Linked DNA regions of Homo sapiens. The protein of the gene in region 1 purifies or fractionates together with the protein of each later gene. This does not show direct contact. Each region holds a gene or a part of one and is shown on either strand. Other genes may lie near its edges.

The links.
Region 2: the proteins of KCNK3 (region 1) and COPB1 purify together in Homo sapiens (affinity purification with western blotting, with the first as the bait; 2 studies listed by BioGRID). This does not show direct contact.

Annotation. Positions count from the first base shown.
Region 1 is NC_000002.12:26,730,669-26,734,191, forward strand, and holds the end of KCNK3 (potassium channel subfamily K member 3), read left to right. Parts: 3' UTR 1-2,752; downstream 2,753-3,523. UniProt on the Homo sapiens protein: K(+) channel that conducts voltage-dependent outward rectifying currents upon membrane depolarization. Voltage sensing is coupled to K(+) electrochemical gradient in an 'ion flux gating' mode where outward but not inward ion flow opens the gate.
Region 2 is NC_000011.10:14,479,094-14,482,917, reverse strand, and holds part of COPB1 (coatomer subunit beta), read left to right. Parts: intron 1-1,820; coding exon 1,821-1,928; intron 1,929-2,012; coding exon 2,013-2,159; intron 2,160-3,203; coding exon 3,204-3,349; intron 3,350-3,824. UniProt on the Homo sapiens protein: The coatomer is a cytosolic protein complex that binds to dilysine motifs and reversibly associates with Golgi non-clathrin-coated vesicles, which further mediate biosynthetic protein transport from the ER, via the Golgi up to the trans Golgi network.

The DNA.
Region 1 (3,523 bases):
AAGAAGTCTACCCTGCTTGTGAGTCCCGTCTCAGTGTGGAGGAACTGGCTGCACGTGGGACCTGAAGGTGCCCTCTGTGTTTATGTTGGGGGTGGGGGGGCAGTGCTGGCTGCCTCTGTCCTGTGTGTGACCCTGCCCTCGAAGGGTCCTGTCCTGTCAGTCCCGAGGGAGCCACAACCAAAGCTGCGGAGAGAAGGTGGGGAAGGGTGCAGAATGGCCGTGGGGCACAGCGTGGCAGACTGTTCAGTCTCTGCTGGGTCTTTCCTAGGGACCTGGAAGGCCAGTGTTGCTTCCCCCTCACTCCCTTTCACTGCAGGCAGCCTCTCTGCTTCCCCAATGCCTTATGCCTGGGCACACTGCCACAGAATATGCAATATGTGTGGGTGACCATGCCCTCACGACCACACCCCCACCCCGGGCAGCCCCCGGACTCCAAAGGTCGTGGCTGCCACAGCCTCCCTCAGCTCTTCCTGCCTATCTGTCTTCACACTGAGAATGGCGCCCAATAAATGCTATCCACGGAGACCAGGCTCAGGCTCCAGCTGCCTCTGTCATCGTATGCCCTTGCTGCTGCCAGGGAGGGGCCATCTCCCACCCCCTCCCCTGCCGGGGTCTACAAACATATCTAGCTGCTGGGTGCCGTGGCTCACACCTATAGTCACAGCACTAGGCGGGCAGATCACCTGAGGTCAGAAGTTCAAGACCAGCCTGGCCAACATGGTAAAACCCCGTCTCTACTAAAAATACAAAAATTAGCTGAGCGTGGTGGCGCATGTCTGTAGTCCCAGCTACTCGGCTACTCAGGAGGCTGACGCACGAGAATCGCTTGAACCCGGGAGGCGGAGGTTGCAGTGAGCTGAGATCGTGCCACTGCACTCCAGCCTGAGCGACAGAGTGAGACCCTGTCTAAAAAAAAACAATAATAATAAAATAAAATAACATACCTAGCTGACTCGCCATGGGCTCGCTGGCCTGTGGGCGACACTGGCTTCCCTTTTGGGATTTCCCAGAAGATCCAGATTTTCTTAAGTCCCCTTGGAACAGACTAAGAAAGGATCACCTTAGAAATCACCTGGTCCTATTGTCCCCCCCGTACATGAGTAACTGAGGCCCACAGAGAGCAAATCGCCTGCCTGAGTCACACAGCAGTGAGTGGCAGACCTAGGCTAGGAACTAGGACTGGGGATTGCTATTCCAGTGCTCCCCATCCTCACACAGACTGCACAGTCCGCCTGGACACACCCCAGCTGACAGTGGTACCTCCCAGTCAGCCAGGAGAATGGATTCCTTCTCCTGCAGTAGGGGCCCCCTGGCTGAGTGGCCTGATTGACTAAAACATATGTCTTTGAAGGAGAGTGCATCACAAGCACCTTTCTTTGGGGTAGATTTTTCTCTGGGTCTAGAGGGACAGCTCAGGCTTGGGACTGGGCCTCAGAACCTACGACAGACCGTGAGAGCAGACCCACCTTATCCATCTGGTGCCAGCTCCCCAGGTCAGCTACAGCGACCCCCGGACTTCATAGAGTACAATCCACAGTAATAGCACACAGCTCTGTACCTATCTAGCTCCATGCCTATCTATCTGCCTACCTTTCACAAAATAATTCTTAGCAACCCTGCTACAGCCAATGATTCTAATACGTTCTGTTCTATTGCATGTTATAAAATGCTGGTCACGATCCACTAAATTGATGTCTCTACCTGCTAATGGTTTAATACCTGCAGATTGAAATATACTGGAGAAATAAAGAGAGTGGGAGTAGGGACACTTTCTCCCAGTGCCCACACCGCCCCTCGTTACCCGCATAGGTCAACTGAAAGATACAGAGAGGGAAGCTTTGATGGGGGGTTCAGAGTTCAAAGGAAGAAATGATGGCACCTGCACTCCCTGCCCCCAGAGGCAGGACACAGCCAGCCCTCCTGTGACAGCACTCCTGGCAGCTCCTTGTTGGCCTGCAGCCCTCAGGGGGCTTAGTTGCCATTGACTCACCCACTCCTAAGGCCACCACATCAAAATCTGAGGCTTACTGCCCTGTCCCACCTGCCTCTGTCTTTCTTAAAACAGCTAAATGCAACAATAGCAGAAATTAGCTTGTTTTTGAGGTTGGCAATGACCAGTTCAAGGTGACTCTTATTTTCTTAAGCAGTGCTTGCAGGACATAAATGTGATGACACTTGCCCTCCTTTCTTTATCGCCTGGGACAGACTTTACAAACAGACCTGGGAGAAGTCCCCTAAGGGGCTGCATTTATCCCCATCTCCCTAGGGGTGATCAGCATTGTGACAGCTGGGCAGAGCAGTGGTGAACTGCACCCATGTCCCTGCTCACATCTCCTAAGATCTCAGAATTGCCTGAGGTTCTAGCGTGGGCTCCTTCTCTCCAGATGATGCCATCCCCACCCCCCTCATTTCCACACAGCATCTGAGGCATCCTGCACTAAAAGATATATGTACAGCAAAACAAAAATAGAAAACCAGCACAGCAGAGTGGAGGTGGGGTATAAATATACCCAGATCCCCGCTGATTTGGTTACTCGGGGTGAGCATCAGATGGAAATAGAAGTTTCCGGGGGCCAAGAGAGAAAGAGGGATGTAACGACAATTCTTTTCAAAACGTGTCCCATGGTATGCCTCGTGGAAAAAATGGTTCGTTGGTCAAATGAATTTGGGAAAATGCTGTCAATATCACCGACTCATGGAGCTTCGCAAGGCATCTTAGCTTAATAAAGGTTATGAAAAGTCTTGCAGCAAAGATGCTGTTTACCCCTGCTTAATCCAGCACTGCCCAAACTCATTCCAAATACCAGAGCCTCTGTTTGCACGACATCTCTCCGAGCCCTGTATGTCACAGCACATGCTTTGGGAAATGCTGATCCATCGAAATCTCACTGATGAAGAGAGAAGGCTGATCCTTCCTCCTCACCCCACACTAAATTATAAAAGAAGTTTAGCTTGCAAGTCCTTCTATAAGTGAAGACTACAACAATATAAAATACATATGTTATTCTCAATTGCGTGCCAGATTCGACCAAGGCTCAAAGCAGCCCGCTTGCTCAATATCAGGCAGTGAATTGATGGCAAAGCGGGGATTTGAACACAGGCCGATGGCTGCGAGGCATATGCTCTTACCCACCTGCTGTGTACTGTCCCATGATGATCCACATCTTCAGCAAAGGTGTGGCAGAAGTTCAGAGCTATTTATGATGTGGTCATTTCTTATTCAGAACCTCGGTGAGAGAGGAGGCTGTAATCTAAAGATGTCATCCTTCAAAGATGACAGATTCCATTGGAGCTAAGAAATCCTATTCTGGCCGGGTGCGATGGCTCACCCCTACAATCCCAGCACTTTGGGAGGTAGAGGTGGGCAGATCACCTGAGGTCAGGAGTTTGAGACCAGCCTGGCCAACATGGAGAAACCCTGTCTCTACCAAAAATACAAAAATTAGCTGGGTGTGGTGGCGTGCACCTGTAATCCCAGTTACTCAGGAGGCTGAGGCAGGAGAATCACTTGAACCTGGGAGGC
Region 2 (3,824 bases), on another chromosome or scaffold:
TTTTGATCAGCTAAAGTGTTAACTATTGAGTCATCATAGCCTTTTGGGGTATTATCTTTACCACAAAAAATATTTCTAAAATGGCTGGACGCGGTGGCTCACGCCTGTAATCCCAGCACTTTGGGAGGCAGAGGCGGGCACATCATCTGAGGTCAGGAGTTTGAGACCAGCCTGGCCAACATGGTAAAACCCTGTCTATACTAAAAATAACAAAAATTAGCTGGGTGTGGTGAAGTGCGCCTGTAATCCCAACTACTTGGGAGGCTGAGGCAGGAGAATCACTTGAACCCAGGAGGCAGAGGTTGCAGTGAGCTGAGATCGTGCCACTGCACTCCAGCCTGGGCAACAGAGTGAGACTCTGTCTCAAAAAAAAAAAATGTTTTTCTAAAGTGAATCAGTATTATATTTTTTTATCTTTTCGGTTTGTACTGTATTGACTATTCTTAGCGACAGTGACATACTCATTTTAATTTGAATATAATTTACATTTCGTGGAAAATTATTATACCAATTGAGAATAAAAGGTGATCTGATTCTAGAAAATTATCACCATATTTGTTTAATCCATGAGAATAATAATGGTTATAAAAATAAAACCCCATGGCAGGTAAATGCAGTGCTGATCTTGGATCAGAACAACAGCAACAACAAATTTCTATGAAGGACATTATTGGGACAGATTGAGAAATATGAATATGGTGTGTATATTAGTTAATAGTATTGATCAGTGTTAAATTCTCTGATAATTATAATGTGGTTATATAAGAAATTATCCTTACCCTTGAGAGAGATACACTAAAATTATCAGCAGTAAAGAGCAAATGTGGGCCAGGTGTGGTGGCTCATGCCTAAAATCGCAGCACTTTGGGAGGCTGAGGCAGGTGGATCACCTGAGGTCAGGAGTTCGAGACCACCCTGACAAATATGGTGAAACCCTCCCTGTCTCCATTAAAATACAAAAATTAGCTGGACATGGTGGTGTGCAACTGTAGTCCCAGCTACTCAGGAGGCTGAGACAGGAGAATTGCTTGAACCCAGGAGGCAGAGGTTGCAGTGAGCCAAGATCTTGCCACTGCACTCCAGCCTGGGTGACAGAGCAAGACTCCATCTCAAAAAAAAGAAAAGAGCAAATGTGGGAAGATATTAACTGGTGAATGTAGGTGAAGGATATACAGGAGTTCACTCTTAGAACTTTTTTATCAGTTTCGAATTGTTTTTAAGTGTGCATCTTTTAAATGTTACATTTTCCTATGGAGTCAAATAATATCACATTTAACGAAATTGTTAATAATTTATGAATGTTATCTAATACCAAGTCTATATGTAGATTTTCCCAGTTATCCCAAAAGCCCTTTTTGTTTAGTTTGCCCATTTTGTGACCATGTATCGTATTTGGTGGTTATGCCCTTTCAGTCTCTTAATTTTGGACAGTATCTTTTTTTTATGACACTGATTTGTTGAAGAGACCAGACCAGTAATACTATAAAATGCCCCTCTTTCTGGATGTGTATGGCTACTTTCTTACGTTGTTTAGCTTGTTCTTTGACTTCTGTTACTTTCTATAAACTGTAAGTTGGAGCTTTAGCTTTAGCTTGACAGAGTCAAAGTAAACATTATCAGTTTGAATGTGTCATGTGCTATTATTTCATATTGCAGTGTATCAGGAGACCCAAACTATCTAGTTCTTCCACCACTAGTGGTTTTGTTATTGATTAAAGAATTAAAGTGATGATAGATAAACCCCACCATTCTGCAGTGAAGATTTTTTTCCTGTGACCAGAAAGATTGGTGTTAATTCTTGATTTTTTCTTCTTTTTTAGGATCTGGTTATGGATATCCTAAGAGTATTGAGCACACCAGACTTAGAAGTACGAAAGAAAACTCTGCAGTTAGCACTGGATCTTGTCTCTTCTAGAAATGTTGAAGAGGTAAAAGGAAACTCTGACAGCACTTTGTAGCTATCAGGCCCAAATATGATGTAACTCTCACTTATTTTTACTTCATTCTATAAGCTGGTTATTGTCCTGAAGAAGGAAGTGATAAAAACAAATAATGTGTCTGAGCATGAAGATACTGACAAATACAGACAACTCCTAGTGCGAACATTGCATTCCTGTTCTGTCCGATTTCCAGATATGGCTGCAAATGTTATTCCTGTGGTATGTAATTCTGATGACTTTAATTTTGAAATTATCTAAAAGAATTTTTTAAAAAATATAGTTATTTGACAAACTCCAGAAATCTCAGCTGCCTAGAACCATTAAATCTCATGGTGAGAAGTGATCTTTATATCTACCTCTACCTTTAAACTCAGAAGGGTGAGGACTGACTTCTTTCACTTATATATTCATCAAAAAAACAAAAACAGTGACCAAAAAAAAGCTTTGCATATTATTTTAATTGATGATACAGTTACCTAAAGTAAAATTATGCTGTGTATATATATTATTCAGTAAGGCAAATAGGTATTTATTTTAAATAGCTTTAGCTCTTAAAGGAATCAGTTATAGGAAAAATTCACATATGTAGAATATTTTGCTGTCACTGTCAGATAAGTGAGGTATGTTATTATAATTTGATTTTTGCCTTTGAGCTCTTGAGTTCTCTCTAAAATGATTTTAGTTACAATTTAGGAGGATCGAATTCATTTATTTATTTGGAGTTTTGGATCTCTAGCTTATCTTTTATAGTGAATTTTAAAATAAATTTTGCTGCACATAAAATGGAAAAGCCATTGTGACTTTGTTTACATAATAGTACTTGTCTCTCAATTTACATTTTGTTGTGTATTTGAAAATTATTAAGAATTACAAGGGTCAGGCATGGCACTTCATGTCTGTAATTCGAGCACTTTGGGAGGGCTAGGCAAGAGGATTACTTGAGGCCAGGGATTCAAGACCAGCCAGGGCAATATAGGGAGACCCTGTCTCTACAAAAAAATTAATATTAGCTAGGCATAGTGTCATGCCTGAAGTCCTAGCTCCTGGGGAGGCTGAGGCTGCCAGAGGATCACTTGAGCCCAAGAGTTCAAGGCTGCAGTGAGCTATGATTGTGCCACTATTCTCTAGCCTGGGCAGCAAAGCAAGACCCTGTCTCTTAGAAAACAAAAAAAGAATTACATTCTTTTAATTTATTTCTTGTCCTAGATAATTTTCTTTTCGAAAATTGTTAGTTCCATTTTCTTTTTTTTTTTTTTCTTTTAGTTAATGGAATTTCTCAGTGACAACAACGAAGCAGCAGCTGCTGATGTCTTGGAGTTTGTTCGTGAAGCCATTCAGCGCTTTGATAACCTGAGAATGCTTATTGTTGAGAAGATGCTTGAAGTCTTTCATGCTATTAAATCTGTCAAGTAGGTTTAAAATACATTTAAATGTAAGGTCAAGTAAGCATTTTATCAGTTTTTATCTTTAAAGGGTCAGTTGATAGAAAATAGAATGGAGAGGACAATCAAGCCAAAATAAGACAAGTTTGTACAACAAGCATCTCGCTAACTCCACTCTCATTTAGTCTATAATAAATGGCCCAAAATAATTTTTTTAGGAGTGATTTAGCTCAGGGTCTCTATTCTGATTTTCTCTAAAACATTGTGAATCTTAAAGTAACTAAAGAGCATATTTTTAAATGGCATCACTTTTTGGCTATTACTATTATTTATATCTTCCTTTCACATTTAATGAAGAGAAAGATTGAAAATGCAACCTAAATCTGTCTTTCCCTTCAGAGAGCCTTTGCTAATGAGAAAGGACTGTTGCATCTAAATTTTGCTTCATTTAAAGCATCTGATGGATAGTCTCTAACAGACTTGAAATATGTCTCAGGAAGGA